3 linked regions of the Homo sapiens genome follow. The protein of the gene in region 2 purifies or fractionates together with the protein of the main gene of each other region. This does not show direct contact. Each region holds a gene or a part of one and is shown on either strand. Other genes may lie near its edges.

Region 1 (7,498 bases), on a different chromosome or scaffold from region 2:
ATTGATCTGGGAACAGTTTTTTAGTACTCCCACTAGCACCAACACATAAAACGTGGGTGAAATGGTGATGCAGTTTGGCTGTGTCCCCACCCGGATCTCATCTTAAATTCCCACTTGTTGCAGGAAGGACCTGGTGGGAGGTAATTGAATCATGGGGGCAGGTCTTTCCCATGTTGTTCTCATGATAGTGAATAAGTCTCACGAAATCTGATGATTTTATAAGGGGAGTTTCCCTGCACAAGCTCTTTCTTTGCCTGCTGTCATCCATGTAAGATGTGACTTGCTCCTCCTTGCCTCCTGCCATGATTATGAGGCCTCCCCAGCCACACGGAACTGTGAGTCCATTAAACCTTCTTCCTGTGTAAATTGCCCATCTTGGGCATGTCTTTATCGGCAGCATGAAAATGGACTAATGCAAATGGCTTTGAGATATAAAAAAGTTTTAAATTACACTAAAGTCACAAGTCAGAGTTCCAATGTCTGTAAACAACAGTGCAGTTCCCATGATCCTGATGAAAACCTGCAGACATCTCTGTATACCGGCTGAGATGGTGCCACCATACAGCAACAGTGTGAGTGCAGTTTCTATCATTCACTCAGCTGCTCAGCTTTGAAATGATTCTTGACCAAAACATTCATTCATTAATTAGCAAAAAAGACTTATTTTTAATTTGAGATGTGAACTATTTCAAAACTTGCTCATAAAGTCAGGTTTGATTAATGTTATTTTATTTCATATTAGTTCCTATTTGCCCAGTTGAAATACACGTAAACACAACCTTGCTGAAAATCACTAGCATGTGGCGGACAGCGCAAAGAAAACAAAACATTTCCCAGGCAATGCTTAGAGCTCCTGATTATTTAAAAGCTCTGAGGGGAAAATAAATTTAAAGTAATGTTTGAAATGACAGTAAACAGGTGGATTTATAAAAATAAAAATATACAATGTTTAAGGTTCATTTATCTCCATACATAAAATAAATAAATAAAAGCCCTCTCTTTACTGAAGAAGACAGAACACACAAATGCAACTCCTTTCCTTTAAGAGACTTCATTAAAATGATAACAAAGGCATTTTTAAAAACAAGTAGGTCCAGATGAGGCGTAGTGGCTCATACCTGTAATTCCAGTACTTTGGGAGGCTGAGACAGGTGGATCACTTGAGGTCAGGAGTTTGAAACCAGCCTGGCCAATATGGCAAAATCATCTCTACTAAAAATACAAAAATTAGCTGGGCGTGGTGGCAGGTGCCTGTAATCCCAGCTACTCAGGGGGCTGAGGCAGGAGAATCGAGTGAACCTGGGAGGCAGAGGTTGCAGTGAGCCGAGAAGGCAACACTACACTCCAGCCTGGGTAACACAGCGAGTCCCTGTCTCAAAAACAAACAAACAAACAACAACAACAAAAAAACAGGTATGTCCAGACAATAATGTAATAATGTGGCAAACTGGAGAAGGCACATTAGCTGATGAGAGCTTTCTCCATGGTTGTGGGTAATGGAAAGCAGTGACGGCCTGGTAGTTGAGGAATTAGGGCAGAGGGGCATTAGACTAGAGTAGAAGGGGCTCCAGCCAAACAAGACTCTGCAGACCCTGGAGAGGGTCTGAAACACCAGGAACAATGGTGGGAACGTACTTGGGCAGAAAATTAAAAATAAGTGTCAATGGAATCTACCCTTTGCCCTGCCTGGCCCCGTGCCATAAGACAAAAACAAAATTGAAAACGAAAGCAAAACCTTTCCTATATCCTGATATTTAAAATTCTGGCAGTGTTTGGTGGCTCATACCTATAATCCCAGCACTTTGGGAGGCTGAGGCAGGAGGATCACTTGAGCCTAGGGGTTTGAGACCAGCCTGGCCAACACGGCGAGACCCCCATCTCTATAAAAAATAAAAAATATTAGCTGAATTTAGTGGCATGCACCTGTAGTTCCAACTACTTGAGAGGATTGCTCCTGGTGGGAGGATTGCGTTAGCCCGGGAGGTCGAGGCTGCAATGAACCATCATTATGCCACTGCACTCCAGCCTGGGCAGTAGAGCAAGACCCTGTCTAAAAAAAAAAATCCACAGAAGGTTGAAGGTAAATTTAATAAAATATCTCAAAAAACAGAATTAAAGAAATATTTAAAATATGAAAAAATATTAAAGGTCTGGAGAATCAAACTGTGAGGTCCCTATCTAAGTGACGGGAGATGCAGACATGACACAGAAAAGTAGAAGGAAGAAAGTGTCGAGGTGGTAACATAAAAATATTTCCCATGCTGCACATGCTGGCATGTGCTTGTGGTACCAGCTGCTTGGGAAGCTGAGGCAGGAGAATCACTTGAGCCCAGTAGTTCTGGGCTACAGTGAGCCATGATCATGCCACCGCACTCTGGCTTGGATGACAGAGTAAGAACCTATCTCTAAAAACATAAAAAAAAAAAATAAAATTAATTTAAAAAATAAAAATAAATCATAATTTTTTCCAAAGTTGAAAGACGCAAAAGGGCTCTCACTAGGTGCCTAGCACAGTAGATGAAAATACCTCATACAGTTCTGTGAGTTGGCTGGGCTCAGCCAGGCAGTTCTCACCTTGAGTGATGGTGCTCCCCAGCCACTGAACCTAAGAAGATAGGGTTTTCCTACCCTGTATTTTCAAGTAATGGGAATCAGAGCCAACTTCATTTTCCAGCCCTCTCCTCCTTACTTACCGCACTCCAGCTGTTACCAGTAGGGAATCTGATGTGTCTGCAGCAGCAACTCTATTCTTCCCTCCTCAGAGGAAAAAATTCGCCCAAGGGGCATAAGGTAGAGTAAGAAACCAAGATAACTTTTAGAGCAGGAGTGAAAGTTTTTAAAAAAGTTTTAGAGAGGAATGAAAGGAAGTAAAGTATACTTGGAAGAGGACCAAGCGGGTGACTTGAGAAATCCCAGTGCACTGTACAACCCTTAATGTGGGGTTTTATATGTTGGCACGGTTCTGGGATTTGCGTTTCTTCTCTCCTGATCCTTCCCTTGGAGCAGGCTGTCCACTTATGCAGTGGTCTGCCAGCACTTGGGAGTGGCCGCACTCACAGTGTGTTTACTGAAGTTGTGCGCGTGCTCATTTGAGGCATTTTTCCCTTGCCAGTCGAGAATTCCTAGAGGAAGGTCATATATTAGTTAAACTCTGACATTTTGCCCCTTAGGGCCCATGCTTGAGCCCACTTGCCCAACTCCTGAGATCTTATCAGGAAGCGGCTGACACTAGCTTCAGGTGTTTTCTATCTATTGGGAGCCGGCCTTTCCCTGGTGCTGGCTGCAACCAATGATGATTTTAGAGAAACAGTGTAACAACCACCTGACCATCACATGATGGTCGCCTGACATTCCTGGTTGGGGGTGGGGGTGGAATGCCCTCTGCTGCCCTTCTCATGTTCCCCTAGCTACCTACTCTAACACAGGTATGTATGCCTTTCTGAACTTTCTTGAATGTGTCAGACTTATTTTAACCCCAAAGACTTTTTTTTGCTATTGCCTTTGACTACAATATGACTTCCCTGTATTTTTGCATGACACATTACTCCTCACAATTCAAGTCACATCTCAAATGTCACCTCCTCAGGAAAGATGTTGTGCTGCTCATCACACCTAAAATAGCAACTTTCAGGTCGGGCACAGTGACTCATGCCTGTGATCCCAGCACTTTGGGAGGCCGAGGTGGGTGGATTACTTGAGGTTAGGAGTTCAAGACCAGCCTGGCGAACATGGTAAAACCCCCTCTCTACTAAAAAGACAAAAATTAGCCGGGCGTGGTGGCAGGTGCCTGCTATCCCAGCTATTTAGGAGGCTAAGGCAGGAGAACTGCCTGAACCCAGAGGTGGAGGTTGCAGTGAGCCAAGATCGCACCACTGCACTCCAGCCTGGGTGACAGAGTGAGACTCTATCTGGAGGGAAAGAAAAAATGCAACTTCTATTCTCCACCTATCCCTTTAGCCTATTTAAATTCTTCATAGCACTTACAATGACCAAATCCTTTTTTTTTCTTTTCTTTATTATCTGTCTCCTCCATGAGAGTAGGGACTTTGTCTTATTCATCATTATACAGATGGTTCTGGAGCCACCCAACAAGTTCTTCTTCCCCACTGCACAGACAAAAATCAATTCACTGAGACCATGGCATTGCAATAGAGAAAGAGTTTAACTGCCGCGAGGCTGAGCCCACGTGGGAGAACTGGAGTTATCCCTCAGATCAGTCTCCCTGTAGGCTCGGAACAAGGGTTTTTATGGACAATTTGGTTGTCAGGGGGTAGGGGGATAGTGCCGCTGATTGGTTGGGGATGAAATCATACCGGTGTGGAAAGCAGTCCTCATGCACTGAGTCTGCCTCTGGGTGGGGCCCCAGGACCTGTTGAGTCATGAGTCATGAGTCTGAGTGAGGTCAGTCTGAAAAACATCTTAAAAAACTCAATCTTGGCTGGGCGCGGTGGCTCACGCCTGTAATCCCAGCACTTTGGGAGGCCCAGGTGGGTGGATCACAAGATCAGGAGTTCGAGACCAGCCTGGCCAAGATGGTGAAACCCCGTCTCTACTAAAAATACAAAAACAAACAAACAAACAAACACCCCAATCTTAAGTTCTACAATAGTGATGTTACTTACAGGAGCAATTGGGAAAGTCACAGATCTTGTGAACTCTGGCCACATGACCCCTGGGCATTAAGGGACTATAGAAACTATGCCTACATTTTAGCAGAGTTCTGCCTTCTCCCATTATCCTATTCCTGTGGCCTTTCATTAGTCTTACAAAGGCGATTTTGGTCCCTGAGAAAGGAGGGGGTTAGTTTTAGGGAGGGACTATTATAATCTTTACTTTCAAATTAAACTATAAATTGAATTCCTCCCAAAGTTAGCTTGGCCTATGCCCAGGAATAACCAAGGACAGCTTGGAGGTCAGAAGCAAGATGAAGTCAACCATGTCACATTTCTGTTACTGTCAGTTCTGCAAAGGCAGTTTCCTTCCCTAACATAACAATAATTTGATGTAGATTTATCATAAGATGGCTCAAAAGAGAGAATGCATTCAGCAGAAACTGTACTTTGAGTATTCAAACAACTATTCTGTTTTTCAAATTCAGTACAGTATTCAATAAATTCTATGAGATTCAACACTTTGTCACAAACTAGGCTTTGTGTTAGGTGATTTTGCCCAACTGTAGGCTAATGCAAGTGTTCTCAGCACGTTTTAGGTAGGCTAGGCTATGCTACTTTAACAGCTACATTGTCTAGAGTATTTATGCTGGGGTTCCTTGTCTCACAATGAGAAAGAATTCAGGACACAGACACACGTGGGTGGGTTAAGAAGTAGAAAACTTAATAGAAGAAAGGAGAGAGAGAGAAGTCCAAAACGGGAGGCGGCGGACCGCAGCAGATTTTATAGGCAGGCTGGAAAAGGTGGTGTCTGATTTACGCAGACCTCATAGATTGGTACCATCAGGTATGACATTTACATAGCCCGCGAGGAAGACTGGCTGCCCCACCCTAATCTTATTATGTAAATGGACTCTCCAGTTGATCAGCACTATCTTGACTGCTCTTTAATACATTGTATGGTGGTCGACAAAGAGAAAGGAAGACAGAGCCACCATCTTGAACACATATAGTCCCTAGCTCCTGCCGGCATTCACCTGTGCAAGCTCCCAGCTTGCTTGTTTATATCTGCAGCTCAACTTTATAGGCTGCTCTTTGTTAAAAAACAATTTGGGGCTGCTTTTCATTAAGGATAAAAGCCTTACCAAGGACTTCCGTACCCTCACTATCTGCCCAAGTAATTTCTTCTTAACTCCCATATCCCTATGTTCAGTAGGTTAGGTGTGTTAAATGCATTTTCAACTTACAATACTTTTAACTTATGAAGAATTTACAGGGAGCACCTGTATCATTAGTGCCTAGAACATACTTGGAATGTTTGTTGAGTGAATGCTGGATCAGAATCTTGGCTGGGCATGATGGTTCATGCCTGGAATCCCAGCACTTTGGGAGGCCGCGGCGGGCAGATCACCTGAGGTCAGGAGTTTGAGACCAGCCTGGCCAACATGATGAAACCCCATCTCTACTAAAAATACAAAACTTAGCCAGGCATGGCGACCCGTACCTGTAATCCCAGCTACTCGGGAAGCTGAGGCAGGAGAATTGCTTGAACCTGGGAGGCGGAAGTTGCAGTGAGCCGAGATCACACTATTGCACTAGAGCCTGGGTGACAAAAGTGAGACTCCATCTCAAAAAAAAAAAAAAGAAAGAATCCATTTCAGGCAGACAATGGAACAATGCTTTTAAATTCCTGATGAAAAATTAGTTTCAGCTCAAAATTCTATATCCAGTCAAATCTTCAACTAAATGGAAAAGAAAAATAAAGACATTTTTTAGACTCATAAAACTAGCTTGCTTTACATCTCTTCTAAGAAAATACCTCAGCAAAACCAGGGCATAAACGAAACAAAAGTTTTAAACATGGAATCCAGAAAGCAATGAGTTTAACCAAGGATGGCAGTAAAGGGAAACCCCATGGTGACAACTGTGTAGCAAGACTGGAATAACAGCTCATCCAAATTGAAGTGGGCAGACACAGGGCCCTGGGATGGAGATCTCTAGGGGAAAAAAAAAGGAGAGCCAGGCATAGTGGCTCACGTCTGTAATCCTAGCACTTTCAGAGGCCAAGACAGGCAGATCGCCTGAGGTCAGGAGTTCAAGACCAGCCTGGTCAACATGGTGAAACCCTATCTCTACTAAAAATACAGAAATTAGCTGGGTGTGGCAGTGGGTGCCTGTAGTCCCAGCTACTCGGGAGGCTGAGGCAGAAGAATTGCTTGAACTCGGGAGGTGGAGGTTGCGGTAGCCAAGATCACGCCACTGCACTCCAGCCTGGGAGACAGAGCAAGACTCTGTCTCAAAAAAAAAAAAAAAAAAAAAAAAGAAAGAAAAAAGAAAAGAAAAGAAAAGAAAAAAAAGGAGGATTTCCATAGAAAAGTGAATTTGATGAAGAGGTTGGAAAAAGTTGACAATATATTTCTTCAAATAGTACCAAAAAAGCAATTAGAAACTGTAGAGGAAAGCAAAAGTATAAAAGAGAAAATGTAATTGGTAATCTTATTGATCACAAGCTCTGTATCAAACAATATTCACAGAGATCCAAAAAGAAAAATATTCCACATTGATTTCCAAATTTGTGAATCAACTTATAGATGAAGAAGAGATGATTTACTTGTGGTTACAGAACAGCCTTGATGATGTTGTGGGGGGACCTGTGATGCACTGTCCAGGGAAAAAAGAAATTATTTTCCCAGTGACTGGAAATGCTGCCAGCAGACAGCTCTCAGCTGTGTGCCCCTTTGCAGACTGCCTCAGCGGAAGAGAGCTGCATAGTGTGAAACTCAGCTGCTTCCTCTGCCCAATCCTGTTTCCTTCCTTTCTGCAATACATCCCCTAACAAACCTCCTGCATGCCAATCTGTTTCGTAGTCTGCTTCCCAGAGAATCCAA
Region 2 (7,024 bases):
TTTACAGCTTAAATCTTTCACGTTGTCATTTCATCTTATCCTTACAACCACTTTGATAAGGCAGATGGGTGCTACTCATTTTATGGATGAATCAGTTGGGAATTAGGAAGTTTAAAGTTTAAGAACTGAGTAAATGGGCTGGGCGCAGTGGCTCATGCCTGTAATCCCAGCACTTCAGGAGGCCAAGGCAGGTGGATCACCTGAGGTCAGGAGTTTGAGACCAGCTTGGCCAACATGGTGAAACCCCATCTCTACTAATAATACAAAAATTAGCTGGGCGTGGTGGCGCATGCCTGTAATCCCAGCTACTGAGGAGGCTGAGGGAGGAGAACTGCTTGAACCCAGTAGGTGGAGGTTGTAGTGAGCCGAGATTGCGTCACTGTACTCCAACCTGGGTGACAAGAGTGAAACTCTGTCTCAAAAAAAAAAAAAAGAACTGAGTAAACCAGCCAGGTGCAGGGGCTCATGCCTGTAATCCCAGCACTTTGGGAGGCGGAGGTGGGCAGATTGCTTGAGCCCAGGAGTTTGAGACCAGCCTAGGTAACATGGCAAGACCCCATTTCTGCAAAAAATACAAAAACTAGCTGGGTGCGGTGGCACGTGCCTCTAGTTCCAGCTACTTGGGAGGCTGTGGTAGAAGGATCACTTGAGCCCAGGAGGTGAAGGTTGCAGTTAGCCAAGATTGCACCACTGTACTCCAGCCTGGGGAACAGAGTGAGACTGTCTCAAATAATAATAATAATAACAACAATAATAATGATAATAATAAACCTTAGTTAACCCAAGACATCCAAAATATTATCATCTCAACATGTAGTTAATATAAAAAGTTGAGACATTTATGCTTCTTCTTTTTCTGAGTAGCTACAGTTCAAGTGCTCCACAGCTACCTGCGGCTAGGGTTACAATGCAGAGACTATGTGTTCCTCAAGTGAAGAAACTATCTCATTTACATTTTATCCTCATCACCTAACACTGACCAGAATTTAACAAATTCACATGGGCTTCAAAACAAATACTGAAAGAAACCTGAGTCCACCCGGCCCTCCACATTCAGGAACTTACAAGCACAGTGGACCCGTCTTCTTCCATCTTCTGGCACGTCTCCTTCTCTATGCCTAAGACAGAAAGTCATTTTTATAGTTATCCCAAGAAGTCGGTTCCTTTCCTCCCTAGTGAAAGGCTCTTGGAAACCCCAGTGCAGGCGAGAATGACTTATGAACACATGAAAAGCATTTTAAGATTTTATTTAAAAGGAGCGCTGGCATTTTGTTGAGTGCTGTTATAAGTCCATGACATTCAGAAGAGGAGCACATGGTTAGTCAGCCACAAACAGGTCGTCAGCCTTCAGGCTGAAAGAACAGCAAGGCTGCCCCCTTGTGTCCATTAAAAGTTTGGAAAAATGTGTCGTACTAACTGTGGCATTATTTCAGAAAGGGGACACTGTGTAACACTGAATGCTTTTTTTTAATCATCAAGTCGGAGTGAATTTAAATTCCAGCCCAGAAGGGTGGCCTTGATCTAATTAATGCAGCAGATAAGATAATAAGCTTTAAAATTCAAGGCAGCGAAACTAAACTCATTCTCCCCTCCACCCCTTCAAATGGGCTTCCTTGTCTCAGGTCTATCCTCTACTCTACTAGGGTAGAGGATGACATTTAAAATAACCAGAAGATGGCTGGGCACAGTGGCTCATGCCTGTAATCCCAGCACTTTGGGAGGCCAAGGTGGGTGGATCATCTGAGGTCAGGAGACCAGCCTAGCCAACATGGCGAAGCCTCATCTACTAAAAATACAAAAATTAGCTGGGCGTGGTGGCGCATGCCTATAATCTCAGCTACTTGGGAGGCTGAAGCAGGAGAATCGCTTGAACCCGGGAGCTGGAGGTTGCAGTGAGTTGAGATAGCGCCACCACACTCCAGCCTGGGCAACAAGAGCGAAACTCAGTCTCAAAAATAAGAAAAATAAAAAATAAAATAACCAGAAGATGCACTCATTAAAGTAAACATAAAAATACAGAAAAGCATACAAAAGTTTAAAGTTACAATCCTCCACATGGCAATCACTAACTACTATTGTTGTCAATAGCTAATTATTTAAAACACAAATGTGACCATCACTCCCTTATTCAAAAACCTTCAACCTCCCCCTCCCTACCTATAGGATCAAGCCCAGATTCCACGGTATGACCTTGTTTCCCACTTGGCCAGATACTTACAGAAAGCAACCAGGCCTTTTACCAACGTGGCAGCTTTCTTCCCATGGCTGTGTGAAAATCTCATTTCCTGGAGAACATCTAGTAAGTATCCATCAGGACCCAGCTTCAAGGGGACACTCACCAGGACACAGTCAGGATTCACCTAACAGGGCCTGTAGCCATTCCCACACCCAGGACCGCAGCCTCCACTTGCTTGTGATGCGGCTGATCAGTTACAATGTAACCACTTGTTTAAATATGTTCCCCTTGCTGTTTGCTAACTTTGAAGACAGCACTGTATGTACAGGGCCCCAGCTCTCTACATAAATTTTTATTGAAGGAATTTCCTCTAGTGAGGAAGAATATAATTCAATAAATGTTTACCATGTACTGTGTCAAAGGTGACTCAAAGATGAGTGGTAGTCTCTAACCTCAGTAAGTTTATAATATTACCTTCCTGTAATTAACACACTGCGCTAGGTACTGTGGAACAGGAAGGGGGAAAGGAAATGTGGGAGCAAAAGCATGCTGGAGAGACCTGAAGGGATGTGCAGATCTGTGTAAGAGGCAGCAAAGGAAGACACTTCAGATGGAAAAAAACCAAGGCAGGTGTTAAGAATACTCAGGATTAACCCCAAGAAACTGGGGGAATGGTGAACAATATCTTTGGGAAAGATGTCAGGGCAGAAGACAGTATTGGAAGAAATCAGGAACAATGCCTGGCATATTATTTTATAGATGAGAGACTGAGGCCTGGGATGAGAAGGAGGCCAGGGGGAATAAATTGCTCCAAGTCCTGACTTTCCATCTGCTTCCCTGGCTTAATGGCAGATCATGACTTTTAAAATTCTATACATAAAAGCCCATGAATAAAATTATGTTAAGAAGATCTGAGTTTTTAATAATGTTTAATGTAGTCAGGAACATGGTTCTAAACTTTTCATAAGTAAAGTTTAAGGCCAAGGATGTAACTGGGGTCCCAAGAAAGAGGGGCTTAGCTCTAGAATGATCTGATGAGTCCATCAATAAGAGGCTTCCACCCTGGTTAGCCCAGGTTCCTCATTGGCATGTTAAGAAAGATTTTACAGTGCACTGGTCAATCTCAACTTACCACATCTGTACCAGGAAAATTTACAGTAGCCTAGTATCATGAAAATAATCTCTTCATACTTTGGCATTGTGGCGAAAAGACCATGGAACCAGACTGCTTAGAGTCAAATGTAGTTCTACCATTTACTAATGATGAGGTTCAGAACACACTTCACCAAAATATGGTGCCTTCGCATTTGAGGACACAGCAGAAGCAGGGAGGTCTCTCGGCCCCTCTCCTGCCCCCTTTCCTGAAGCAGGCCATAAAGCAACCCCTCAGACCTTCCCCTGAAAATAGTTCATAAGACCTCATTACAAGAGGGGTCCTCCCTGTACACAGAGAAAAACAATGTCCTTATCCTGAAAGACACAGACACCAAGAGGAATTGGAACAAACAGGACTTGCTAAGTTCCCCTGGTTTATTACCACAGATCACACCCTTCTGTCCTCCAATTATACTTCTGCACAACTATCTATAAAAGTACAGTTTTCCCTGTTCCTTTGGGTCTTCATTTCTGGAGGCTCTAATGTCATGTAAAACTTATATTAAATATATTTGTACACTTTTCTCTTGTTGATCTTTTGTTAGAGATGTCTCAGCCATGAACCTTGTGGTGAGGAAAAAGATACCACTTTTCTGTCCTACCCTAGCCAAGTGACTTTAATCAAGTCACTTAACTTCTTTGACTTACTTTGTTTCTCTGAAGAAGTGAGAAAAGGGTAACACCTTGCTATGAATGAGTATATGCAAAGCACTTAAAACAATGCCTGTACATGGTAAGGCACCATACATGTCAGTTGTTATTTCTCTAAGTTAAACAATGAGTATAACAATCACAAAAAAGTCAAACATATGACATATTTATAGGCCATTTGATATAGTTTAAATATTTGCCCCCTAAATCTCATGTTGAAACCTGATCAACAGTTGGAAGTGAGGCCTAATGGGAGGTGGCTGGGTCATAGGAGCGGATCCCTCATGAATAGCTTGGTGCCCTCCTTGTGGTAATGAGCGACTTCTTGCTGTTAGTTTCTGTGAAATCTTTGTTAAAAATAGCCTGGCATCCTCCCCGCCCCCTCTTCCTCCCACCTCTCGCCATGTGACACACTTGCTCCCCCTTGCCTTCCACCATGATTGGAAGCTTCCTGAGTCCCTCACCAGAAGCAGGCACTGGTGCCATGCTTATTCTACAGTCTGCAGAACCATGAACCAAATAAACCTCTTTTTCCTATAAATTAGCCATTCTCAGGTATTCCTTTACAGCAACGCAAATGAACTAACACACCACTATACTTTAAGATATGGCCATATTCACATAAAATTATAAAGAAATTCAAGCAGTCTCACATACATCAGCATCTCCTATACAACTTGTCACAAGTATCTCTACGTTCCTAGTACTTCAATAAGCACTTTGTGTCCCTTTTCCAGGTAAAGAAGCAAAGCATAGGTCAGCATCCTAAATCTATCCTTCAAGTGACCCAATTCTTTAATCTCTGTAAGGCTCCTCCTGCTTTATTAGGCTTTCAGGCATTTCCATGCTTATGTACATTAGAAAGATGAAGATATGCTTCCATACCTGCTTCTGAGGATGAAAACGCATGATTTATGGTAGACACAGGAACATTGGAACATTCAAAGTACTCCAGGTCTTCCTCTGGCTCACCTTTCACCTCGGCACCAGCTGATTTCTGACCACATGACGTGGATGCCAGTTTCTCCTCATCAGTAGCATGGCCATCCCTATTAGAAATGTCTGAAATCTGGGAGATCACTGCCCCTTCATCCTGAGAAACACAACAGAGAAGATGCTACCCTTTAGGAGGGCAAGCAATGGGGAAAAGTGACATCCCATGAATGGAACAAAGTAGACACAACTCCATACAGATATGTGAGAGGTTAACCACAGACCTGGGTACAAAGCAAGGAGGAAGTTGGAGTCTTTCAATTGTGAGATGCTGTTTTATAGAACCTAGTTTCTGTAACTTGAGTCTGAGGTTTTAAAAAATGATCTTCTCTAGGTTAAGTTTATAAGCAAGCAGTTTCAGTGGTTTAAGACAATGGTTTTCAATTTTTTTGCTCATATACCTAATTTTTTTTTGAAAATCTATGTCCCCCATTGCATTTTCAAGTGACATCTAAAAACTTTTTGGCATAAGTTTAAATAATTGCAAAGAATGTAATATCTGGAATATTCTAAATATTGAATTTACTTAATGCTATCTAGTTACCTTAGTGATTTGATACCATATGTAAATTTAAATGAACAAGTTCCTGAATAAGTCAGAAATTTATGTTATTCCTTTTCCTCTCTAAATCTGTATTTCCATCCCACTTCCATCAAGAAACTATCCAAATGAAAAACATCTGCATGGTTGAAAGTCTTTTTAAAAGTCTCTATCCAATGTCTCTGTGAAACTTTTTTCTTTAAGTCTTAAAATTTTTTCTGCTGGAGACTTATCACATTTATTAATGCACAACTTATTTTCAAAATATTGCAAGTTTTGATAAGTATTATCAGACACAAAAGTAAGTTGTTATATCAATTACAAAATGTTTTATTGCACTAATTCTTAAAAACTTTTACAGTGCACTAAATATATGGGTTTTGGGTTTTTGTTTTTGTTTTTTAAAGAAAACCAAAGATAAATTTCTCATAGTTCTTGCTGCCTACTTTAGCAAAATCTGAGGGAGAATGTTACACATTTGTTAACAGATGAAAAATAACTCAGATTGTAAATTTCCCCCATCACACCCCTTTTTTACATCTTACACCATATACCAAGTTTCTGATCCAAATTGTAGAGGAAAAGTTATGTTAAATTGAACTCTATTAACCAATGAATGTATTTCTGTAATAAGTATACTGAGAAAGTTTTAAAAAGAACAAAAGGATCTCATTGCAATCAGATGGGCCTGGGCTTCGCTTTGTTTTGCAATTAGTTTATACGGTCATGGATGGATATTATTTATTGCTAGAATGTAACAAAGGTCAACATCAATTTTATTCCTGGTTTCTATTTTTATCAATATAATCATTAAGAAACCTTATTTATATAAACAATAGATGAAACAGAAAGTAGTTCTGTAACATAAGTGCCTTTCAATTCTTTGAACCCCTTTCCAAGTTATGTGCCCAAAAAAATCTACCATCAAACATTATTTTTAGACCTATCAGCTGACAACTCAGGTTTTCCTCTATTGTTGAAAGCAATGAATTAGAAAACCATCTGACTTAAGAAAAATACCATCCAGTTATTAGAGTCAATTATCTTATTAGAACCTACACCAGTATTTCAGATCTTCCCTTCGGTGCCCTGGAGACTTTCACACCCTGTGGTGATGCATCTTTGTAGCATTTAAAGTGGGAATTTTACCAAAAAAAAAAAAGAGTCATTGTGAAAGGGTTCCCTTGTCTTCAGGGGCCTTCTCTTCAGGGACAGTAAGGATCTGGAAATTGGCTTCTTAAAGCTGAGTACTCAGGTACCCATTGGAAAGTCCTTTTGAACCACCCGCCAGGGGGATGCAAACTCCCACTGGAGGACCCCTGGTCTCAGAGACATTCTGGAGATGGGCACAGACTCACCCGAGAACATGCATCCAGGGCGAGAGACTGAGTTTCATGCTTCTTCACCTTACAGCCACTCCTGGAAAGAGAAGAAACACAAACAAGCCAGTTTGCAATCACACTGACAATTGTCAAGGTATGAAATGGAGCAGACAGCAGTGTGTGCGG
Region 3 (7,024 bases), on a different chromosome or scaffold from region 2:
TGATCTTGGCTCACTGCAAGCTCTGCCTCCCAGGTTCACGCCATTCTTCTGCCTCAGCCTCCTAAATAGCTGAGACTACAGGCACCCGCCACCACGCCCGGCTAATTTTTTGTATTTTTAGTAGAGACAGGGTTTCGCTATGTTAGCCAGGATGGTCTCAATCTCCTGACCTCATTATCCGCCCACCTCAGCCTCCCAAAGTGCTGGGATTACAGGCGCCATCCACCATGCCTGGCCTAGCTTTCTTACATTGAATTTTTGCCAGTAAATATGTCCTCCTCCTCTCTAAATCTATCATCTGAATTATCCTTCAAGACCCATATCAAATTCTGTCCTCTTCATAAATACCTGCCGTGATTGAGCTAGCCTGAAAAGACCTCACCCTCCTCTGGACATTTTTGGCAATTATTGTGTATGCAATCCAGATGGCAATTAATAATTGGCTGCCTTGTGTCATCTGTCCTATTGTCCTAGAATATCATTTGTATCTCTTATTGTTATATAACTTTTTACTTGTTTGTCTTGTTTCACAACTCATTTTTAATCTTGAGCACAGGGAATATATATATATATATTTATTTATTTATTTTGAAACAGGTTCTGGCTCTGTCACCCAGGCTGGAGTGCAGTGGTGCAGTCTTGGTTCACTGCAACCTCCGCCTTATGGGCTCAAGCCATCCTCCATCCTCCCACCTCAGCCTCCTGGCTAGCTGGGACTATAGGCACGTGCCACCAGGCCCAGCTTTTTTTTTTCGAGATGTATTGCCCAGGCTAGAGTGCAGTGGTGTGATCTTGGCTCACTGCAACCTCCACCTCCTGGGTTCAAGCTATTCTCCTGCCTTAGCCTCCTGAGTAGCTGTGATTACAGGCATGCGCCACCACCCCTGGCTAATTTTTTTATTTTTAGTAGAGACAGGGTTTCACCATGTCGGTCAGGCTGGTCTTGAACTCCTGACCTCATGATCCGCCTGCCTCGGCCTCCCAAAGTGCTGAGATTACAGGCGTGAGCCACTGCGCCCGGCCTATGCCCGGCTAATTTTTGTAATTTTTGTAGAGATGGGGTTTTGTCATGTTGTCTGGGATGGTCTCAAACTCCTGAGGTCAAGCAGTGTGCCTGCCTTAGCCTCCCAAAGTGCTGGGATTACAGGCATGAGCCACCGTGCCCAGCAGGAAACGTATCTTAAGCCTGTCCCCTACAATGCCTTGCCCGTAGTAGATCTATACTTTGCTGTGACCCAGTGGACCTCTTGTCGTAGAGGCTGCTCAAAGGCTTGATTGGCTTTGTAGAGTTATATCATATCCAGGCTCTTAGGTCCTGCTAATTCCCTTGCGCCCCTTTTGCCTTGTTCTCTCTTCTAGGCACCTCATTGTGAACATGCTTTCTGCAACGCCTGCATCACCCAGTGGTTCTCTCAGCAACAGACATGTCCAGTGGACCGTAGTGTTGTGACGGTCGCCCATCTGCGCCCAGTACCTCGGATCATGCGGAACATGTTGTCAAAGCTGCAGATTGCCTGTGACAACGCTGTGTTCGGCTGTAGTGCCGTTGTCCGGCTTGACAACCTCATGTCTCACCTCAGCGACTGTGAGCACAACCCGAAGCGGCCTGTGACCTGTGAACAGGGCTGTGGGTGAGATTTGTTCCCTTCTGCCCCACATGGATAAGGGCCATCTCATTTATGCCCCTGTCTCTGGCTGCCCTCCTCACTAGCTGAGGAGGTCTCTTTGGCATGTTGGCAAGGAGTATTCTTAGCCTCCTTGGCTTCCTGCTCTAAGATCTTACTTTCTTGCTGCTTTTCCAACTATAATCATTTTGCTCTTGCTTTAACAAAAGAAGGGGCACAGCAATTTAGTAAATTTGTGTAATAACATTAAAGCTTGATTGACTCTATTCTTCCCTTTCAGTCCAATACTACTTTCCGTTTGTCAGGTTGACTGCTATAATTGCCAGCCTTCTCATATTTCCTCTTGCCCTATTTTTTTATTTCTGTGGGTTATGAAATATTCGACTAAATGTTGATAGCTGAAGGGCATGTTAGCTCACACCTGTAATCCTAGCACTTTGGGAGGCCGAAGTGGGCAAGTCACTTCAGGCCAGGAGTTCAAGACCAACCTGGCCAACATGGCAAAACCTTGTCTCTACTAAAAATACAAAAATTAGCCAGGTGTGGGGCCGGGCGCGGTGGCTCACGCCTGTAATCCCAGCACTTTGGGAGGCCAAGGCGGGTGGATCACGAGGTCAGGAGATTGAGACCATCCTGGCTAACACATTGAAACCCCGTCTCTACTAAAAATACAAAAAACTAGCCAGGCGTGGTGGCAGGCACCTGTAGTCCCAGCTACTTGGGAGGCTGAGGCAGGAGAACGGCATGAACCTGGGACGGGGAGCTTGCAGTGAGCAGAGATTGAGCCACTGCACTCCAGCCTGGGCAACAGAGCGAGACTCCGTCTCAAAAAAAAAAAAAAAAAATTAGCCAAGTGTGGTGGTGCTCGCCTGTAATCCCAGCTACTCAGGAGGCTGAGGCATGAGAATCACTTAAAACCAGAGGTAGAGGTTGTAGTGAGCTGAGATCGCGCCATTGCACTCCAGCCTGGGTGACAGAATGAGACTCTGTTCCCCCTAACTAAAAAATAAAAAGAATGTTGATAGCTGGGGCTGTGAATATAGGGCTTCTCTGAAGGAATAAGTGCACAGGCAGAATCTGTAGGAGGAAAAGGAGAGCTGTGCAGTAGATAAAAACAGTGTGTCAAAATAAATAAATAGGCCCCGTGCGGTGGCTCACGCCTGTAATCCCAGCACTTTGGGAGGACGAGGCGGGCGGATCACCTGAGGTCAGGAGTTCAAGACCAGCGTGGCCAACATGGTGAAACCCCATCTCTACTAAAAATATAAAAATTAGCCAGGTGTGGTGGTGGGCACCTGTAATCCCAGCTACTCGGGAGGCTGAGGCACAAGAATTACTTGAACCCATGAGGCGGAGGTTGCAGTGAGCTGAGACCGTGCCATTGCACTCCAGCCTGGGTGACAAGAGTGAAACTTGGTCTCGAAAAAAAAAAAAAAAGGCCAGGCGCGGTGGCTCACGCCTGTAATCCCAACACTTTGGAAGGCCGAGGGGGGCAGATCACGTGAGGCCAGGAGTTTGAGACCAGCCTGGCTAACATGGAGAAACCCCATTTCTACTAAAAATACAAAAAGTTAGCCGGCCATGGTGGCGCGCACCTGTAATCCCAGCTACTCGGGAGGCTGAGGCAGGAGAATCGCTTGAACCTGGGAGGCAGAGGTTGCGCTGAGCTGAGATCATGCCATCGCACTCCAGTTTGGGCAACAAGAGCGAAACTCCGTGTCAAAAAAAATAATAAAAATACAAAATAAAATAAATTTAAAAAATAGATAAAACACTGTGTCTTGATTGGGGAAAGAAATTTAAGGAAAATAGACAGCAAAGGGGCAAGTAGGAAGCTTGGACGAAGAAAGTGAAGGGAATAAACAAGAGGGAGGCCTGAAATGAATGTTAGAAATTTTGGGTAGGACAAAATCTACTTAGCAGTTATCTGCCACAGAATAGGCCATTTGCATACATGTCCCAGGGATCACCTCTGTTCTGCTCTTTCCCCACCCTGGTCTGCAGCCTGGAGATGCCCAAAGATGAGCTGCCCAACCATAACTGCATTAAGCACCTGCGCTCAGTGGTACAGCAGCAGCAGACACGCATCGCAGAGCTGGAGAAGACGTCAGCTGAACACAAACACCAGCTGGCGGAGCAGGTAGGCCCCAAGACACGGGGGAGAACATATCCCTCATATGCAGATAACTGCCTGCCTGTGGGTAATAAAAACCAGTTGTGAACACACAGACCAGTGCTTACACTTGTGAGCCTAGATGAGTGGATATTCTGCCTGTGGCTTAGCAGGGAATCAGATTGGAGCTCTCCTTGACTTTTCTTCATCCCATTCATAGCATTAATTCACCTACCAGTTATCACATGCCTCCTCTGTGAAGGCACATTTGTAAGTACTAAGGAGACAGCTGTGAGTGAGACAGTCTTATCCCTGTCTTCCTGAAGCTTACAAACTGGTTGTTCTTCAGATCTCTCAGTTGCCCTCATTCTTGGATAAACTTTTGTCTTTTTTCTGCTGTCTGCCTTAACCATTATTCCTGTTCTTCTTCCCCACAACAGAAGCGAGACATCCAGCTGCTAAAGGCATACATGCGTGCAATCCGCAGTGTCAACCCCAACCTTCAGAACCTGGAGGAGACAATTGAATACAACGAGATCCTAGAGTGAGTGTCACTCAGGACGTGGAGTGATTTCATGTCCTGACAACAAGGCCTGAAAGGAGGAAGAGCAGGAGAGTAGCAGAAGGAGGGCATTGGAGAGCTGGGCTGGGGGTCACTGCTTCTCAGATATTGGCATTAAGGACAGGGGCAGAGGAGAAGAGGATAACCCTTAGCTCCACTACAGGATGTCTTATGTGTTTGGGTGGATGGAGGGAAAGCCTGCCCAAGGATGCACTTTATCCAGAATTAGGTGAGTACCCATGTACAAAGCCCTGTATTAAAGGCTGTGGAGTGCTAGGAGGGCCAAAAAGAAATAGAAGATATCGTCCTGTCTTCAGGTAGCTTACAACCCAGAGAAGAGGAGGCAGAGTGCAAGTCCAGGAAAGTGATCTCTAAAATGCAGCAAAAACAAGCGAAGTATACAAGTGAAGTCTAAGATCTCTTTCAGTTCTGGAGTCCTATACAGTTCATAGAGTAAACTGTAAGTGTGAATCAATATATACAGGGCAAATAGTGCTGAGTGGGACATAGGATAGAGGAATAATTGTTTTATTCACTAAACATAGAGCACTAACTGTGTTAGGCGCTATATGTGCTAAGTATTGGAATTTCAAAGAAAAGTAACAGAGACAGAGTGCAGACTTGTGGAATTTAATCTGGTGAGTAACATGTGGTGACTCAGTTGGGACCAAGTGGGGAAAGATTTGGGGTTTCTGAGCCAATGATGGAAGGAAAGAAGGAAGAATAGGTAAGCTGAGTGCAGAGTGGGTAGTTATTTCTATTAGCAGAAAAAGCCAATACAGAGAAAGGAGATGAGCTGGAATGACCATCTTTAACCACCTCCACACAGGTGGGTGAACTCCCTTCAGCCAGCAAGAGTGACCCGCTGGGGAGGGATGATCTCGACTCCTGATGCTGTGCTCCAGGCTGTAATCAAGCGCTCCCTGGTGGAGAGTGGCTGTCCTGCTTCTATTGTCAACGAGCTGATTGAAAATGCCCACGAGCGTAGCTGGCCCCAGGGTCTGGCCACACTAGAGACTAGACAGATGAACCGACGCTACTATGAGAACTACGTGGCCAAGCGCATCCCTGGCAAGCAGGCTGTTGTCGTGATGGCCTGTGAGAACCAGCACATGGGGGATGACATGGTGCAAGAGCCAGGCCTTGTCATGATATTTGCGCATGGCGTGGAAGAGATATAAGAGAACTCGACTGGCTATCAGGAAGAGATGGAAATCAGAAAATCCCATCACTCCAGCAGCTGGGACCTGAGTCCTACCCACCATTCTTAATACTGTGGCTTATACCTGAGCCACACATCTCCCTGCCCTTCTGGCACTGAAGGGCCTTGGGGTAGTTTGCTCAGCCTTTCAGGTGGGAAACCCAGATTTCCTCCCTTTGCCATATTCCCCTAAAATGTCTATAAATTATCAGTCTGGGTGGGAAAGCCCCCACCTCCATCCATTTTCCTGCTTAGGGTCCCTGGTTCCAGTTATTTTCAGAAAGCACAAAGAGATTCAATTTCCCTGGAGGATCAGGACAGAGGAAGGAATCTCTAATCGTCCCTCTCCTCCAAAACCAGGGAATCAGAGCAGTCAGGCCTGTTGACTCTAAGCAGCAGACATCCTGAAGAAATGGTAAGGGTGGAGCCAAATCTCTAGAAATAAGTAGTGAGGCCGTTAATTGGCCATCACTGATGGCCCTTAGGGAAAGACTGGACCTCTGTGCCAAGCAGTATCCCTGTTCAGCCCACCTTAAAGGTGTAGGCACCCACTGGGTCTACCAGTATGCAGGTTGGGATACTGAAAATTTCCAGATGAGCTCTTCTTTCCTACAAGTTTTCATAATTAGGGAATGCCAGGGTTTAGGGTAGGGGTTAATCTGTTGGGGGTTGATGTGTTTAGCAAGAAGCTACTCCTAGCTTTTGCTAAAATATGGTTGGCACTGCCTCTTGTGGCACAGGCCATAATTGTTCCATAGACCCCTCTCTAGCCCTGTGACTGTAGTTAGTTACTTTGATAATTTTCTTTGGCCATTGTTTGTTTATATTTCACAAACTCCACCTACTGCCCCCCCCCCTCTTTTTTTTAAGAATGGCCTGATCATGGCTATCTCAGCCACATTGTTGGCAATTTAATTTATTTACTTCCTTTTTTTTTTTTTAAGAAAGGAAAAAAGAAAAAAAAATCAAACTTGAAACTTTTCTTTTGATGTTCCTATTGTGGGGGTTCTGGATAGGGTGGGACAGGGATGGGGGTGTGTTTTATATTTTTTCCTTTTCAGCACAACCTTTGGCTTTAATATAGGAAGAGCCAAGGGAGTCCTCGGCTGAACTTACGATATCTGCCCCAAACCTCTGTAACCCCAACTGAAATGAGGAGCTTCCTCTCTTCCTGTGAAGGATATGACAGTCCAGCATCGATGCCTGTGCCCTCTGGAAAAATTTCCTCCTAGCCCTTCCAGGGCCTTATCATAAAACTCTGGATTTAGAGTATTCATTTTGAAGGCAACTCCCCCTTCCCCAAGTTTCCTTGGAGCTGTATAGCTGGGTTCTAAGCTTCACCATGCAAATCAGAAATTTTATCTCTAAGTACAGGCTGTGCCGTGTCTCACCCACACCCCCCTGGGGACTTCAGTTCCATTTCAGGTTACCTGGGGTATACCTTGATCCCTAGAGTGACTGGCAGAGTAAGAGAAGGGGAGAGATAATAGGTGTGATTATTTTAATATGGAGGTGGGAGTGTG

The links. Proteins that work in one complex are often made in the same cells at the same time.
Region 1: the proteins of TACC1 (region 2) and TACC2 purify together in Homo sapiens (affinity purification with mass spectrometry; 3 studies listed by BioGRID and IntAct, with this or other methods). This does not show direct contact.
Region 3: the proteins of TACC1 (region 2) and RNF41 purify together in Homo sapiens (affinity purification with mass spectrometry; 3 studies listed by BioGRID and IntAct, with this or other methods). This does not show direct contact.

Annotation. Positions count from the first base shown.
Region 1 is NC_000010.11:121,984,684-121,992,181, reverse strand, and holds the start of TACC2 (transforming acidic coiled-coil-containing protein 2), read right to left. Parts: upstream 3,020-7,498; 5' UTR 2,694-3,019; intron 1-2,693. UniProt on the Homo sapiens protein: Plays a role in the microtubule-dependent coupling of the nucleus and the centrosome. Involved in the processes that regulate centrosome-mediated interkinetic nuclear migration (INM) of neural progenitors.
Region 2 is NC_000008.11:38,825,219-38,832,242, reverse strand, and holds part of TACC1 (transforming acidic coiled-coil-containing protein 1), read right to left. Parts: intron 6,936-7,024; coding exon 6,875-6,935; intron 5,076-6,874; coding exon 4,868-5,075; coding exon of another isoform or gene 4,815-4,867; exon of another isoform or gene 3,673-4,814; intron 1,119-3,672; coding exon 1,066-1,118; intron 1-1,065. UniProt on the Homo sapiens protein: Involved in transcription regulation induced by nuclear receptors, including in T3 thyroid hormone and all-trans retinoic acid pathways. Might promote the nuclear localization of the receptors.
Region 3 is NC_000012.12:56,204,904-56,211,927, reverse strand, and holds part of RNF41 (E3 ubiquitin-protein ligase NRDP1), read left to right. Parts: intron 1-1,359; coding exon 1,360-1,631; intron 1,632-3,629; coding exon 3,630-3,765; intron 3,766-4,178; coding exon 4,179-4,282; intron 4,283-4,617; coding exon of another isoform or gene 4,618-4,621; exon of another isoform or gene 4,622-4,760; intron 4,761-5,129; coding exon 5,130-5,481; 3' UTR 5,482-7,024. UniProt on the Homo sapiens protein: Acts as E3 ubiquitin-protein ligase and regulates the degradation of target proteins. Polyubiquitinates MYD88. Negatively regulates MYD88-dependent production of pro-inflammatory cytokines.